2 separate regions of the Homo sapiens genome follow, and region 2 is linked to region 1. Evidence: fine-mapped expression QTL. Tissue or cell type: whole blood. Region 1 holds a variant in brackets; the other region holds the start of a gene. All regions are shown on one strand. Distances are between the middles of the regions.

Evidence for each region. PIP is the estimated chance that this variant, and not a neighbour inherited with it, causes the effect.
Region 2: SPDYC starts here. The variant in region 1 is fine-mapped to the expression of SPDYC in whole blood (INTERVAL, PIP above 0.99).

What each region holds. Positions count from the first base shown.
Region 1 is chr11:65,201,108-65,209,160 of GRCh38, reverse strand. It overlaps CAPN1 (calpain 1), which reads right to left. Exons shown (of 22, transcript NM_005186.4): 11 at 4,303-4,478; 12 at 3,440-3,451; 13 at 2,487-2,698; 14 at 2,342-2,381; 15 at 1,041-1,106; 16 at 899-956. Among named protein-coding and RNA genes, the nearest start is that of CAPN1, 23 kb to the right of the region's middle. RefSeq lists enhancers at 3,982-4,171, 4,213-5,200. The variant T/A (reference allele first, on the strand shown) is at 4,278.
Region 2 is chr11:65,165,968-65,174,020 of GRCh38, reverse strand. SPDYC (speedy/RINGO cell cycle regulator family member C) reads right to left here and starts at 3,788. Exons shown (of 7, transcript NM_001008778.3): 1 at 3,760-3,788; 2 at 2,522-2,694; 3 at 2,020-2,078; 4 at 1,690-1,775; 5 at 1,416-1,587; 6 at 1,007-1,337; 7 at 647-838. The coding sequence starts at 2,663. The coding sequence ends at 804.

The DNA.
Region 1 (8,053 bases):
ACAAGTAAAGTATTTTAGCAATCAAGCCAAAGTCCCAACAGCCACAATTAGTCCAAAGTAAAAAGAAATGAGTGTGAAACAGAAGAGCGAGAAATTGGGTAGAAAGATGGGGCAGGGCAGGGCTTGCTGTAGGCTAGGAGGGTAAGCAGTGCTTCACTAGCAGAGAAGAGGAGGAGAAAAGCTCTGCTTAAGGAAACCGTGTGGATGGAGGTCAGTGGCAGCAAAGGGGAGGGGAGGGGATGAGAGGCCAGCAGTTGTCTGCCCTGGGGAGTGAAGCCAGTCACGTGGTGTTCCCCAAGCCACTCAGCCTGGCCCAGGAGGCTCTGGGAGGAAAGGTAGACTTTTCTTTGGCACTAAGGTGCTGCTCCTGCTTTTTTTTTTGAGACAGGGTCTTGCTCTGTTGCCCAGGCTGGAGTGCACTGATGTGATCACAGCTCACTGCAGCCTTAACCTCCCTGGTCTCAAGCCATCCTCCCAACTCAGCCTCCTGAGTAGCTGGGACTATAGGTGCATGCCACCACGCCCAGCTAATTTTTGTACTTTTTTGCAGAGACAGGGTCTCTCCATATTGTCCAGGCTGGTGTTGAACTCCTGGGCTGAAGCGACTCCTGCCTCGGCCTCCCAGAGTGTTGGGACTACAGGTGTGAGCCACTGTGCCTGGCCAGGCTGCGCTGCTAATCCCACAAAGGCACAGCACCCGAGCACAGGGATTATCAGGATGGCAGGTCAGGAGGAGGAGTATGGGATGGAAATGGCAGGGAACTGGGCTCAGAAAAACTGGAGGATTCCCCGACTCATGCAGACCAAGGGATGAGGTTCAGCTCAATGTGTGAGCAGGAGCCTGGATTCTGATGTGGAAGAAATGGTGGGGTGGTGGGACAGCCCCGCGGGGACTCACGTTTGCTGATGATCCTATTGAGGATTGTCCGCAACTCCTTCACGCTGATCTCCATGTCCTGGGGAGAGAGAGGAGGTGGCACCTGCCCCAGGAGAGGGCTGCCCCTCACAGGCCCCTCCCAACCTGCCATGCCCCAACCTACCTCCCCTGCCAGCTGCCTGAAGAGGGCCTTGAAGTTCTCGTCAATCTCCTCTTCTGAGAGCACTTGCTGGACCGAGAAGGGGAGAAAGCAGGTAAGAGAGGCCCCGGCCCTGCCCGTGTGGAGGCAGCTGGAGGGAGGGCTGAGGTCACATATCTGCTACAAGTCACTTCGCTTCTCTGAGCCTCACTTTTCTTTTCTTTTCTTTTTGAGATGGAGTTTCACTCTGTCACCCAGGCTGGAGTACAGTGGCGTGATCTCAGCTCACTGCAACCTCCGCCTCCCGGGCTCAAGCCATTCTCCCTGCCTCAGCCTCCTGAGTAGCTGGGATTAAAGGTGCCCACCACCATGCCCGGCTAATTTTTGTATTTTTAGTAGAGACGGGGTTTTGCCATGTTGGCCAGGCTGGTCTCAAACTCCCGACCTCAGGTTATCCGCCCGCCTCAACCTCCCAAAGTGCTAGGATTACAGGCGTGAGCCACTGAGCCCGGCTTGAGTCTCACTTTTCTAATCTGAAAAGGGAATCTCGTTCCTGCCCTGCCCTGCCCCGCCCCATATCCAGCACTCATGTGACCTAAATGAAGGGGATGCTGTTCAGCTCAGTGAGTAAAAGGCAAGAGTTTGGGCCAGGTGCGGTGGCTCACACCTGTAATCCTAGCACTTTGTGAGGCCGAGGTGGGTGGATCACTTGAAGTCAGGAGTTTGAAACCAGCCTGACCAAAATGGCAAAACCCCGTCTCTACTAAAAATACAAAAATTAGCCAGGTGTGGTAACGTGCGCCTGTAATCCCAGCTACTCAGGAGGCTGAGGCAGGAGAATCACCTGAACCCAGGAGACGGAGGTTGCAGTGAGCCGAGATCACGCCATTGCACTCCAGCCTGGGTGACAGAGTGAGACTCTCTCAAAAAAAAAAAAAAAAAAAAGGCAAGAGTTTGGATCCCTACTGTATGGCCTCAGGCAAGTTCCCTAACCTCTGTGAACCTGAATTTCCCATTCAGAGGAGGTATGGTAACAAGACCCGGACAGGGTTGATGTGGGGAGGAAATGAGGTAACACAGGTGAAGTGCTCAGCACAAACCCGCCACCGGGTGAGAGCTCAGGGCCTGTGCCATTAGTATCACAGGTCCTCTGCAAACTGTAAAGTGCTGGGCGGATGAGGGATTAGCACTACTCCTATGGCTTCCACCAGGAGGGGATCTTCCCTGTTAGCAGGAACTCAGGGGACAGGACACCTGGGTCCCCATCACACACCCAGGGGTGAGGAAGAGAGGAGGACGGGGCCTGGTGGGGTGGGACCACGCACCTCATCGGGGAGATTGGCCTGGATCTGGTCATCCAGCTCCCTGCAGAGAGTGGGGAGGAAAGGAGCCAGTCAGAGGGGGACAGCAGAGGGCCTGAGAGGGGAGGCTGGGAGAGGGGAGAGTGGCAGGGGCCAGTCCATGACTCACACAGTCCCAGCACTCTTCTCTGAGAAGAAGCGCAGCACGAAGTCGCCCTCCTTGTTGGGCTCGAAGGTGGAGGGCACCACCACATACTCCCCGGGTGGCAGGCGGAAGCGGGTGCTGACCTCTCGCAGGTTGATGAACTGCTCTGAGCGCGCCCGAGACGCATTGGCCAGGAAGAAGTCACGCTTCAAGTGTACGGCCGGCTGGCCCACCAGCTGGTGGGAGGGAGGAGGGAGCAGGGCTGCAGCTGCCCACTCAGCCCACCCTCAGGGGCCACCCCCAGACCCAGACTCCAGGCTCCTTGTCCTGGCCAAGGGGCTGGAGAGCTGGGGCATGGCTCACTCACAGCCTGTGTGACCCTAACAAGACATTTTGCCTCAGTTTCCTCATCTGTAAAATGTAACAACCCTACTCACTGCAGAGGGTAGAGGAGAGGAGCACCGGATTGCAGATTAGGCATGTGTTTCAATAACACTGTCATTATTATCACTGGGAGCTTTCCCCAGGTCAGGTACTGCAGGGTACTCGGCACCTCATTTGCTGTTCTGCTGTTACACCCATTTTACAGACACAAACACAGGCTCGGAGCTTAAGCAACTGCTCAAGGGTACAGAACTCTCAGCCTGTCTAATGCCCTGCTCCTGACATTGCTGGACCGCCCTAGTTGGCACTTACTTGGTGTAGATGGCAAGGCAGGAAAAGCCTCATGTGTACATGTCAGACAGGGGCTCTGAGGACCAGGGCTCAAATCCAGCTCCCTCACTGACTACCTGTGCTGACCCTCAGGAGAGCAATGTTTGCTCTGCCCACTGAACAGGTGGGGAGAAGCATTTTTCAAGCAGTGAAACAAGGTGACTTCTTAGCTCTCCAGGCCAGGGTGGGTTTGCCACTGGGTTGCTCCCCTCTGGCACCATCAGGGGTGTGTGACTGCAGGTGGGTCATGGTGCCACACCTACCTCCGGAGGGACCTGCAATAGAGAGACAGGGGAAGTCAGAGATGTGTGTTTGTCCCAGGGCGGGGTCACAGTGCATGCTGGGCAGAGGTCTTGAGTTCTTAGACGGGACTGATGGGATAAGGAGGCAGAAGGCAGGGCCCTGGGGACCCAGATCTGGTCCCTGCACCACAGCAGGGCCCCAGGAGGGAGGGCTCAGGCAGGGTCCTCTTGGTCCTGGGAATGCTTGCCCTAGGACTCCATTCTGAGTCAGAGGCTCCAGGCCAGCCCCCGGGGTGGCCAACTGCAATGTTCCAAAGCCCAGGGACAGGAAAGGGCCACCGCAGGCTGCTGCCAGGGGGTTTGGGTGTGGGCCAAGACTGCGACCAGGGAGGTCCAGAAGTTTCTCTCCCTGTCTTGAGGGCAGTGTGTGAAGCAGGGCAGATACAGGGCAAGAGCAAGGAGTTCTAATCCCAGAGCGACTGGCACAGCCTCACCTTGGCCGACAGGCCCTCCCTATCCCCTATCTTTCCCCTGCCAGCTTCTGCTCACAGCTTCCAAGACGGAGGGCTCAGTACTCCCAGGCATCAGCTGAGCCAGCTCCCTCCTCCAAGAGCAGCAGGCCGCCCTCTAAGCGTGAGGTGAATCCCAGAATCTCCCTTCCCTGAGCCAACCCCCTTCCTCTCTTTCGGCCAGAGGGCCTCAGCAGGTGCCTCCTGGAGGCTGAGATTTCCCAGCCCTCAGGATGGTGGGGGGAGTGGAGGGGAATTTGTGGGGAAGGGCATGGTCCCTGGCGCCCCCTGGTGGAAGCCCGCCTGCACTGCGGGTCGGGGGCGCCAGGTCCTCTGCCTGCTCAGTGAGA[T/A]CCACCGGTGATCCACCCTCCTGACCTCGTAGACCGCGAAGCCAATAGTCTCCATGTCGCGGCCGAAGCGGCGCTCGCGGCGACGGTGCTTCTGCATAAGGGCGAGCACGAAGCTGCAGCCTGACTCGCGGTCCCCGTAGTCGTCCGGGTCATCCGTCTCATCCAGCCGGATCTTGAACTGAGGGTTCACCCAGAAGGTGGCTGCGGGCAGGTGAGGAGGCGGGGATCAGAGGCAGGGCGGGGCAGAGCCAATTGGCCCCCAAGCCTCCTCAGCACGTCCCTGTGCACGCATTCATTCATTCAACAAATATTATTGAGCACCTGGAACATGCAGGGTGATGGGCAGGCTGGGCCAGGCTCGGTCCATGCCCTCACGGCCTGCATTTGGAAACTAGAGGCTTAAGTCTGAGCAAGTCCGTTAGGTTAGCGAGCAGAGCAACTGCAAAAAAAAGCAAGCAGGAGTAGATCAGAGTAGGGGACCTATGCGCTGAGACCCGAAGGGGCTGCCCTGGGAAGCTGCTGAGAAGCAGAAGCCAGGCGGAGGGCACCCCAGAGCAGAGGTGAGGAAGGGCCCCACGCATCTGCGGACAGGGAGCACTTACGGAGGCTCTAGGAAACACGGAGACCCAGGGAGGCCGCAGAGCTCCCAGGAGCCGGCCAGGGACTAGGGCGTGTGGACTGAAGCAAAGGGTAAGAACCCTCCCACAGCTTGCAGCGAGGAGGCATGTGACTGCATTAGGACTCTAAAAGGTGGCTCGAGTGCTGCGTGGACAACAGCTTAGAAGAAGGCAAGAGAAAAAGCAGGGGTCCGACAGGAGGCCACAGCCAGCCAGCAAGGGAAGGCAGGGGCTTGCATTTCTGGCAGTTGGGTGATTTTGCTGCCTAAAGAACCTTCTTGACTAAAACAACCCAGTGCGGGATAGAACGGTAAACTGCAAAACTTATTTTTAAAGGCACTAATAAGCCACTGCATCCCCTGCCCTCCATTGACAATAATAATAATAATAATAAAGATAATAACAACTTGGGTGAGGATGTGGAGGGATGGGAACCTCACAGGATGCCGGTGGGAATGTAAAATGTTGCAGCTGCTCCGAAGAACATTCTGGCACTTTCTCAAAAGGTTAAACACAGAGCTTCATATGACCCAGAAATTCCACTCCAAGCTCTATACCCAAGAGAAATGAAAACGTGTCCATGCAAAGCCTTGTTCATAAGAGTGTGGCAGGGCGCGGTGGCTCACACCTGTAATCCCAGCGCTTTGGGAGGCCCAGGCAGACGGATCACTTGAGGTCAGGAGTTTTGAGACCAGCCTGGACAATATGGTGAAACTCCACCTCTACTAAAAATACAAAAATTAGCTGGGCATGGTGGCCCATGCCTGTAGTCCCAGCTACTTGGGAGGCTGAGGCAGGAGAATCGCTTAAACCTGGGAGGCGGAGGTTGCAGTGAGCTGAGATCGTGCCACAGCACTCCAGCCTGGGCGACAGAGTAAGATTCAGTTTCAAAAACAAACAACCCACAAAACTAGCTGGGCGTGGTGGCACATGCCTGTAATCCCAGCTACTCAGGAGGCTGAGGTAGGAGAATCGCTTGAACCCAGAGGCAGAGGTAGCAGTGAGCCGAGATCGTGCCACTGCACTCCAGCCTGGGCAAGAGAGCAAGATTCCATTTAAAAAAAAAAAGAGAGAATGTTAATGGCTGCATTATTTATAACAGCTGAGTGGATGAAACTACCCAATTATCCATCAACTGAAGAGTGAATATACAAAATATGGAGCCAAACAATGGGATATTATTTGGCAACAAAGAGGAACAACATTCTGATCCATGCTACAACATGGAGGAACCTTGCAAACATTATGCTAAATGAAAAAGGCCAGCCACAAAGGACCATGTATTATATGATCCTGTTCACATGAAATATCCCAGTAGGCAAATCCATAGAGATAAGAAGTAGATTTGTGGTTGCCAGGGCTGCTGGGAGGGCTGGGGAGTCATGGCTAAGGAGTACCTCATTTGTTTTTGGGATAATGAAATGTTCTAAAATTGATGTGGTGATGGTTGCACAACTCTGTGAATATACTTTAAATAGTATATTTAAATTGTATATTTAATAGTATATTTAAATCGTAATATATGGCCAGGTGCAGTGGCTCACACCTGTAATCCCAGCACTTTGGGAGGCTGAGGCAGCTGGATCACCTAAGGTCAGGAGTTTGAGACCAGCCTGGCCAACGTGGTGAAACCCCGTCTGTACTAAAAATGCAAAAATTAGGTGGCCATGGTGGCAGGTGCCTGTAATCCCAGCTACCTGGAAGGCTGAGGTAGGAGAATTGCGTGAACCCAGGAGACAGAGGTTGCAGTGAGCCGAGATCTGGCCACTGCACTCCAGCCTGGGTGACAGAGCGAGACTCCATCTCAATAAACAAACAAACAAACAAATAAATAAATAAATAAAATCGTAATATACTTCAGTACATTTAAATTGTATATTTAATAGTATATTTAAATTGCAACTTTAAATAGGTGACTTGTATGGTATGTGAATTAAGTATCAATAAAGATATTTTTAAAAAATAGAAAGTAGGAACCCTGCAAGGTAAATAATGCTAAAGGGCTTCTGTAGACCCCTGAACCCCAGGGTATAGAAGCAGATGATAAACATCTACCTGAGGTAGAGAATCCAACAGGAAGTTCCTGCAATTAAACTGGAACCCCCGTCAGGAATGTCAGCAATGAAGTATGAAAGAAAATTAGGCTGGGCGCAGTGGCTCACGCCTGTAATCCCAGCACTGTGGGAGGCCGAGGCGGGTGGATCATTTGAGGTCAGGAGTTTGAGACCAGCCTGGCCAACATGGTAAAACCCATTCTCTACTGAAAAAATACAGAAATTAGCCAGGCATGGTGGTGGGCACCTGTAGTCCCACTTACTCGGGAGGATGAGGCAGGAAAATCGCTTGAACCCGGGAGGTGGAGGTTGCAGTGAGCCAAGATCATGCCACTGCACTCCAGCCTGGGCAACAGACCAAGACCGTGTCTCAAAAAAAAAAAAACAAAAACAAAAGCCGGGCGCGGTGGCTCACGCCTGTAATCCCAGCACTTTGGGAGGCCGAGACGGGCGGATCACGAGGTCAGGAGATCGAGACCATCCTGGCTAACACGGTGAAACCCCGTCTCTACTAAAAATACAAAAAAATTAGCCGGGCGTGGTGGCAGGTGCCTGTAGTCCCAGCTACTCGGGAGGCTGAGGCAGGAGAATGGCATGAACCTGGGAGGCGGAGCTTGCAGTGAGCCGAGATCGCGCCACTGCACTCAAGCCTGGGCGACAGAGCGAGACTCCGTCTCAAAAACAAAAAAAAAGAAAGAAAGAAAATTAAACCTCCCTGGAGGGAAGGAAAAAATAACCTCAAGCCAGGCTTCACATGACCTTTCAGTTTTAATTCACACTGCCTGTGAAACCTTAAGAAGATAATTTAGTCTTAAAAGCGTCCTGCACCAGGCACAGTGGCTGATGGACTGTAATCCCAGTGTTTTGGGAGACCGAGGTGGGAGGACTGCTTGAGCCCAGGAGTTCAAGACCAGCCTGGGCAACATAGGGAGACCCCATCACTACAAAAAGTAAGAAAATGAGCCAGACGACCAGGCGTGGTGGCTCACACCTGTAATCTCAGCACTTTGGGAGGCCAAGATGGGCGGATCATGAGGTCAGGAGATCAAGACCATCCTGGCTAACATGGTGAAACCCCATCTCTACTAAAAACACAAAAAATTAC
Region 2 (8,053 bases), 35 kb after region 1:
AAGGAAGGGATCAAGTCTTATTCCTAAGTAAACCTGGCCCTGAAGGCATTTCTAGACTAAATAAAGAGCTGTCTTCCATTCAAGTTTTGTTTCCCAATATGTTCCTGGCCTTTTTTTTTTTTTTTTTTGAGACAGAGTCTCACTCTGTCGTCCAGGCTGGAGTGCAGTGGCATGATCTCAACTCGCTGTAACCTCCGCCTCCACAGTTCAAGCAATTCTCCCACCTTGGCGTCCCGAGTAGCTGGGATTATAGGCACCTGCCACCATGCCTGGCTAGTTTCTGTATTTTTAGTAGCAAAGGGGTTTCACCATGTTGGCCAGGCTGTTTTTGAACTCCTGACCTCAAGTGATCCACCCGGCTCAGCCTCCCAAAGTGCTGGGATTACAGGTGTGAGCCACCACGTTCGGCTCCCTGGCCCTCTTCTAAGGGCTGCAGATACCTCATCTCATTTAATCCCATCTAGACTGTGTAGATCTCATCATCCATAGGCATGGATAGCACAGAGATGAAACTGAGGCTCAGAATAACTGGCCACCAATGGGAAGGGGCCAAGCTGTTACAGAGCCTGTGCTCACATGTTGTAACCCTGGTAGATACCCCCTCCCCACCCCAACCTTGGGTCAAGGAACCAGGCCAGGACCTAAGCACAGTTGGTGTCCTGTGGACATGAATTTATTAGAGGGGACTGGCACCAGAGTGGGCACAAGCTGCAGGCTGGGAGGAAGGGGCAGGGGTGGGAGCACAGCCAATGGTGTGTCAGTCAGTGGGCCAGCAGGCGTGCTGTTCTTCACCCTGCAGAGCTTCAGTGCCCAGGGCGTGCCGGAGGCTTTGGGAAGACTGGGGAGAGGAAAGAGTGAGGCTCAGAGAAGAAACCTGCCAAGCTCACACGGGAGGGGCAGCACGTCGACCCCAGGCCCATGGCCCTCTCTCTCATATTGTTGGTCCTCACTCCTGCCTCCCAAGCTCCCACACCAGCCCCCAGCTCCTGTCCCATCCTGCACTCACTGCGGAGGGAGTAGGTGCCTGGTTCCAGTTGCATCTGGGGAGGCAAGACGATGAGAAAGTCCCCACCCCAGGCGTTTTTGACCCTTGAGAGATAATTTTGGGAGGGAGGGCGATGACATTCAGAGGTCAGAGAAGGGCACTTGGATGACACAGGCTTAAGCAAGTGGCTGCTGCAGTGCTGGGGCAAACCACAGGGGGAACAGTGGGGCGGCGAGAGGCCAGGGCCCCGGGGAAGGCGAACAGGGACCTGTGGACAGACCCTCTGAACCCCACCATGGTGGGGGCGCCGGTCCCGAGTCCAAGCCCAGTGGAATGGCTCCTTTGCCATGACCTGGGAGGAGCAGAGTGGACAGTAAATGGGGTGGGAACCCCAGCCTTCCCCACACCCCAGGTTGCCTCCCAGCCTCACCTCCTCACAGCACTGGCGGCTCACAACAGCCCGGAAACCCATCCGTGCCCAAAGCTTATCCCTCTGGTGCAGGAATTTCCCCACTCGTAAACACCAATCTTTTCCCAGGGCCCATGGAAAAATCTCACATTTGGGGCCCTCCAGGTCCTCCTCCATGTCGTTTGCAAGGTACCTAGCCACAGAGGCACAAGGTCAGGGAGCAGAGGCCACACATCTGCCCTGTCCCATCTGACACCTCCAGCAAATGCCTCCACTGCCTGCCCCCACCACTCACAGGGCCAAGAACAGGCTGCTGTGGGTATACTCGCTGAGCTTCAGGTGGGCGCGCTGGAAGTAGACCAGCACCATGGCCAGGAGATACTGCAGAGACAGATCGGGGTGGGGGGTTAGTTATTCTCTGAGGAGGAGGGGCTTGCACCCAGGTTCATTTGCACCCAGGGAGGTTTTGCTGCAGGGAAAGAAAGTCAGTAAAATGGTGGGAAGTGGTGTGCAAAGATGAGGGGGTAAGGATGGAAGGTGAGTGGCTCTCCCTACCAGACCAGGGCACTCAATTCCCACCAACTCAACCTGACCCTCAAGAGACCCCCAGCCTGTACTCCCTCACCTTATCTGAAATCTGGAAGCAGGGGTCTTTGGAGAGGAATTCCTGGACAAAACTGTCCTCTGAGGGTAGAGAAGACATGACAGGACGCAGGTTACCACCACCTCCATGGAGAAGAGTGGCATCAGAAGCTCCAAAGCCCAAGCCACCACTGAACCCTCTCTCTCTTTCTCTTTTTCTCCCTTTTTCTCTTTCTCTCTCTCTTTCTTAATATAAATAGAAATGGAGTCTCACTATGTTGACCAGGCTGGTCTTGAACTCCTGGCCTGAAGTGATACTCCCATTTCAGCCTCCCAAAATGTTGGGATTATAGGTATGACTCACGGTGCCTGGCCCTGAATCCAGTTTCTGAGAGGACACCCCTCCCACCTGCCTAAGCTGGGATACCTGAGAGGGAGAGGGTCAGAGGTCTCAGATGTCTGTACAGGCAGGTGAGACCCCACACTTCACATCTGCTTTCACACTTGACCTCACGGCCCCTCCCGTGCCAGCCCTCCAAACTCACCCAGAAGGCTGAGGAAGGCCTGGACCTCCTGGTGCTGGCGAAAACGGAGGAACCCATTGCCCCCACCTTGCCGGCTGCAGCCCCCCAGCTCTACCTGGGTGGTAACTACAGGGGAAGTGGTGGGGTCTTGGGAGTCACTCATCTCATAGGAGATGGAGATGGGGCAGGGTGACCTGTAGAGAAAGGAGGCTCAGGACTTAGCATGTACCCCCGTGATGCTCACAAATCAAGAGGGTGGTGACAGGGGCCAGGACGGTGGAGGGGTGGGTGCAGAGACTTGGGGGCTCAGAACAGAAGGCAGCCGGGATGCAACAAGAGTGGGGAGGCCAGAAAAGAAGCAAAGAGTTGCTATAGGTGAGGGTGTGGCACCCTCACCCTCCTCCTGGCACCCCAGGACAGGCCAGAGTAACAGCAGCAACAAGCACCGCTGAGGGCTTCCTAAGTGCCTGGGGCTGTGCTTAAGGGCCTTATCTTATTCCATCCTGGTAAGGAGGTAAGTTTAACTCAGACCGGTCGTCAAACGAGGAAACTGAAGCTGAGGCCTAACAGCCGGTTAAAAGTGAAGCCCTTGGTCTCCAAAACCCCAAGAGGTTTTTTGGTTTTTGTTTGTTTGTTTTGAGACACAGTCTCTCTCTGTCGCCCAGACTGGAGTGCAGTGGCGCGATCTCGGCTCACTGCAACCTCCGCCTCCCGGGTTCAACTGATTCTCCAGCCTGAGCCTCCCGAGTAGCTGGGATTACAGGCATGCGCCATGCCACCACGCCCGGCTAATTTTTTTTGTATTTTTTTGGTAGAGACAGGGTTTCACCGTGTTGGCCAGGCTGGTCTCACACTCCTGACCTCCCAAAGTGCTGGGATTGCAGGCGTGAGCCACTGCGCCTGGCCAAAAAAAAAGAAAAAAAAAACCCAAGAGTTTAACTGCTCCTCTAGGCCCCAACTCACAACCACCCCCGACCCCTCACCAAAGCAGAGTTGAAAGGGCCACTGATCCCTTACACCGAGGGGAAACTGAGGCCCTCAGGGAGGAATGAAATTAGAAAAATACCTGGATTTAGAGCAAGTTGATGGGGCCACTTCAAACATTTCAAGCTCCCGTCCTAAACCCACCCTCATCCCTGAGAGAGAGAAGCCAACCACGGGGCCGAGGAGAACGTGCGGTCGACCACCCCAGGGCCAATCTGGGCCCCTCCATCTAGGCGCCCGCAAGCAACCCAGCCTCCTCCTGCAGCGAGCCTTACCCGAGCTCAGGAATGGCCCAGAGCATAACACCAACGCCGCCGCGAGTGCGCTTATATAGCCTGAGGGCGGCCCTGCCCAAAGCAGCCCGTCCACCAATCAGGGCCTTCCTGGGGGGCGAGGCTTGGCCTTCACCGCCTGCCTCTCTGCCAGTGAGTCCAGTCGGCACCCAGCTGTGGCTCCCCAGGGTTTGAAAGCCTCTCCAAAGCTTCATCAACTACAAGAGGGGTGAAGGCAGGCCAGCTGGACCCCAGGGCCTAAGGCCCCATAGGACAGGCAGGGAGCTAGGATCCCTGTTCCCCTCTTGACAAATGCAGCGCCAAGGTGCTGAGCCGGGATATGAGACCCGGACTGCGAGGGCCTGGTGGGCGAGTTTTTTTTCATTGATTGTGCCTTGCTAGGGCAGGGTCTCTGGCTCTCTATGGGTGTCTCTGAATCTCCTGGCCTCCTTGAGTCTCTAGGTTTCACTGAGGCCCCCCGAGTCTCTCTTTTGTTTCTTATTTTATTTTTCCCCTCGTAACACAGAACAAGCTGCCTGGGTCTCAGTGGGCCTCTGAGTCTCTCAGTTTCTTGTTGCCTCTGGTGTCTGGATGTCTGTGGATCTCTGGGTCCTTTGTTTTCTCTCTGATCTCTGGTCTCTGGTGTATCTGCTGTTTCATGGTCTCCCCCAGGCCGCCTCCCAGGCTCCCTGAGGCCGTGAAGGCCTTTCTAGACCAGCTGGTCTGCATCAGGCCATCCTGTTTGTGTGTGTGCACGCATTTGAAGTCGGCCTCCCCTAGAAAGGAAGTAGTGAGTGGGGCAGCATCCATAGCCCGTTCACTAAACACCTACTGCTGCCTACTGAGGAGTCTGTGATGGAATCAGCTCACGTGTTCCTCACAGCAAGCCCGTGAAGTTGATGAGAATGATGAGAAGCCTCATTTTGTCAGCGAACAAACAACTAACACACAGAGTTTGGGTTGCTGACCGACAGGCTGAGTAACTTCCTGCCAGCCACTCAGCTGGTAAGTAGAGATAGAGTTCCAGCCTGGCTGCTGGGCCCACACGCTGGGTAGCCTGGCTGTGTGGTCTACAGCTGTTCCTGGACGCTGCCTGCACAGAGAAGGTGTTCCATGAAACCGAATGAATCTCCTAGACCAGCTGTGTTTTCAACTGTTCTCCTCCTCCCCCAGTAATTAAGGTTAGAGATCAGGAAGGTGTACCAAAAAGAAGCCTGGGAGTGGGCTAGTCACTTTAACTTTGGGAGGGCCTTCAGGCTGATTTCCTTCAGTGCCACCCCTGGAGATCTGACACCGATCTCCCACACTGGGGAGAATATTTGTTTTTACTTTTTTTTTTTTTTTTTTTGAGACGGAGTCTCGCTGTGTTGCCCAGGCCGGAGTGCAGTGGCCCAATCCCGGCTCCCTGCAACTTCCACCTCCAGGGCTCAAGCAATTCTCCTGCCTCAGCCTCCCGAGTAGCTGGGACTACAGGCATGTGCCGCCATGCCTGGCAATTTTTTTGTTTTGTTTTGTTCTCCTGACCTCATGATCCACCCGCCTTGGCCTCCCAGAATGCTGGGATTACAGGCATGAGCCACCATGCCCAGCCTTTCTCTTTCACTTTTCAGAATCCCATGATTCACTGGGCTCTTCAATCTGCCCAGATAATCTCCCCATCTCAAGATCCTTAACTTGGCTGGGAGAGGTGGCTTACCCCTGTAATCCCAGCATTGTGGGAGGCAGAGGAGAGCAGATCACCTGAGGTCAGGAGTTCAAGACCAGCCTGGTAAACATGGCAAAACCCCTCCTCTACTAAAAATACAAAAATTAGCGGGGCATGGTGGTGCATGCCTGTAATCCTAACTACTCGGGAGGCTGAGGCAGGAGAATTGCTTGAGCCCTGGGGGTGGAGGTTGCAGTGAGCTGAGATCATGCCATTGCACTCCAGTCTGGGCAACAGAGCAAGACTTGGTCTCAAAAAAAGATCCTTAACCATCTGCAAAGTCTTTTTTGCCATGTGAGATAACATATTCTCAGGTCTGGGAAGTGAAATGTAGCCATCTTTGGGAGTCCATTATTCTGCCTGCTACAATTATCACAGCAAAATTTATTCTATGCTAACTAATATACTATTTATAAAATTTATATTCATGTAAATGTATATATAATTTGTAAAATCATATATTAATATTGCATGCTATAAAGGATACACGTAAAAGGATATAAAAGAATACACATAAAACATAATAACATACTACCAGCTCAAAAAATATATATATGGCCAGGTCCATTGGCTCACGCCTATAATCTCAGCACTTTTTGGAGGCCGAGACAGGAGGATCATTTGAGTTCAGGAGTTAGAGACTAACCTGGGCAATACATCAAGGCCCCATCTCTACCAAAAATAAACTAGCCTGGCATGGTGGCACGTGACTGCAGTCCTATCTACTCAAGAGGCTGAGGTGGGAGGATCACTTGAGCCCAGGAGTTCAAGGCTGCAGTGAGCTATTATCATGCCATTCTACCCAGCCTGGGTGACACAGCAAGACCCTGTCTCTAAAACATGAATAAATAAATAAATAAGAATATTAAAAATTTCAAAATATAAAGATAGAAAAAATAATATGCAATTACTAAAAGAAAGCTGGGATAACTACACTAATATATTAAAACAACTTTAGGCCGGGCGCGGTGGCTTATGCCTGTAATCCCAGCACGTTGGGAGGCCGAGGCAGGTAGATCATTTGAGGTCAGGAGTTCAAGACCAGCCTGGCCAACATGGTGAAATTCCATTTCTACTAAAAATACAAAAATTAGGTGGGTGGTAGTGGCGAATGCCTGTAATCCCAGCTACTTGGGAGGCTGTGGCAGGAGAATCGCTTGAGCCTAGAAGGCAGAGGTTTTGGTGAGCCAAGATTGTACCACTGCACTCCAGCCTGGGTGACAGAGTGAGAACTTGTCTCAAAAAAAAAAAAAAACAAAAAACAAACAAAAAAACACAACTTTGGACAAAAAGCATAACTAGGGAGAAAGAGAATTTATGTAGTGATTTTAAAAATATACAGCCGGATGTGGTGGTGTGCACCTGTAGTGCTGGTCTGGGCAACATAGGGAGATCCTGTCGGTAAGAAGAGGAGGGGAAGGAGGGGAGGGAAAATAAAGGAAAGGAAAGAGGCAGGAAGAGAAAAATAAAAGGAAAAAGGAAGGAGAAGAAAGAAAGAAGGGAGGGAGGGAAGGAAGGAAGAAAAAAAAGTGTATAATTACCTAACCAGAATCCAGGTAAAGAAAAAAATATATAGTAATTTGTTTACTCCTAAAAATAAAGTCAATAAGCAAGAAACCGCATGTGTGTGTGTCTGTGTGTGTGTGTGTGTAAAATCAACAGAACCACACGGAAAAACAAATCACAATCATAATTGTAGATATGATGGCACATGCAAGGCAAAAAAGTTAGCAAAGCAGTAAAAGATATGAAGAATATGATGAAGAAATTTGACCTAGTGGACGAATAAGCTGGCACTGCACCCAACAAAGGCAGGAAAGCACGCACAGAACATCTTCCTAAAAATTAATCAAATGTACCCGGGCGAGGTGGCTCACGCCGATAATCCCAGCACTTTGGGAGGCCGAAGCAGGCGGATCACAAGGTCAGGAGTTAGCGACCAGTCTGGCCAACATAGTGAAACCCCGTTTCTACTGAAAATACAAAAAGCCGGGCGTGGTGGCGGGCGCCTGTAGTCCCAACTACTCAGGTGGGTGAGGCAAGAGAATGGCGTGAACCCGGGAGGCGGAGGTTGCAGTGAGCGGAGGTCGCGCCACTGCTCCAGCCTGGGTAACAGAGCAAGACTCCGTCTCAAAAAAAAAAAAAAAAAAAAAAAAAAAAAAAAAAAAGAAAAAGAAAAAGAAAAAGAAAGAAAGAAAATATTGTCTGTCAAAGTTGGAGGACACAACTAGTAATTCTTAGAGAGGAATTTATGACCTCAAACGCGCGTGTTAGAAAATAAGAAAAGCTGTCACGCTGATGAACTGAACTCCATCTTAAAAAGTCACAAGCCAGCCAGGGGGACTTCCGGGTCCTGAGGCCCAAGGGGCTGCCTGGGTCCCCATCCGCCAACTTTTGCTGTCCACACAGCCCCAGACAACAAGAAAGGAAAAATAAAACGCTGCCAAAACCACAGCGTCGGCATAACTTGAAAGCAGAGAAGGTCCAAACTTCAAGATAAATGTAAATAAAAAGAAAGCGACCATATCCCCGCACGCCGTCGTGCGCTGCGGCCTCTCCCAGGCACGAGGCTTTGTGCCAAGAAAAGCTGGG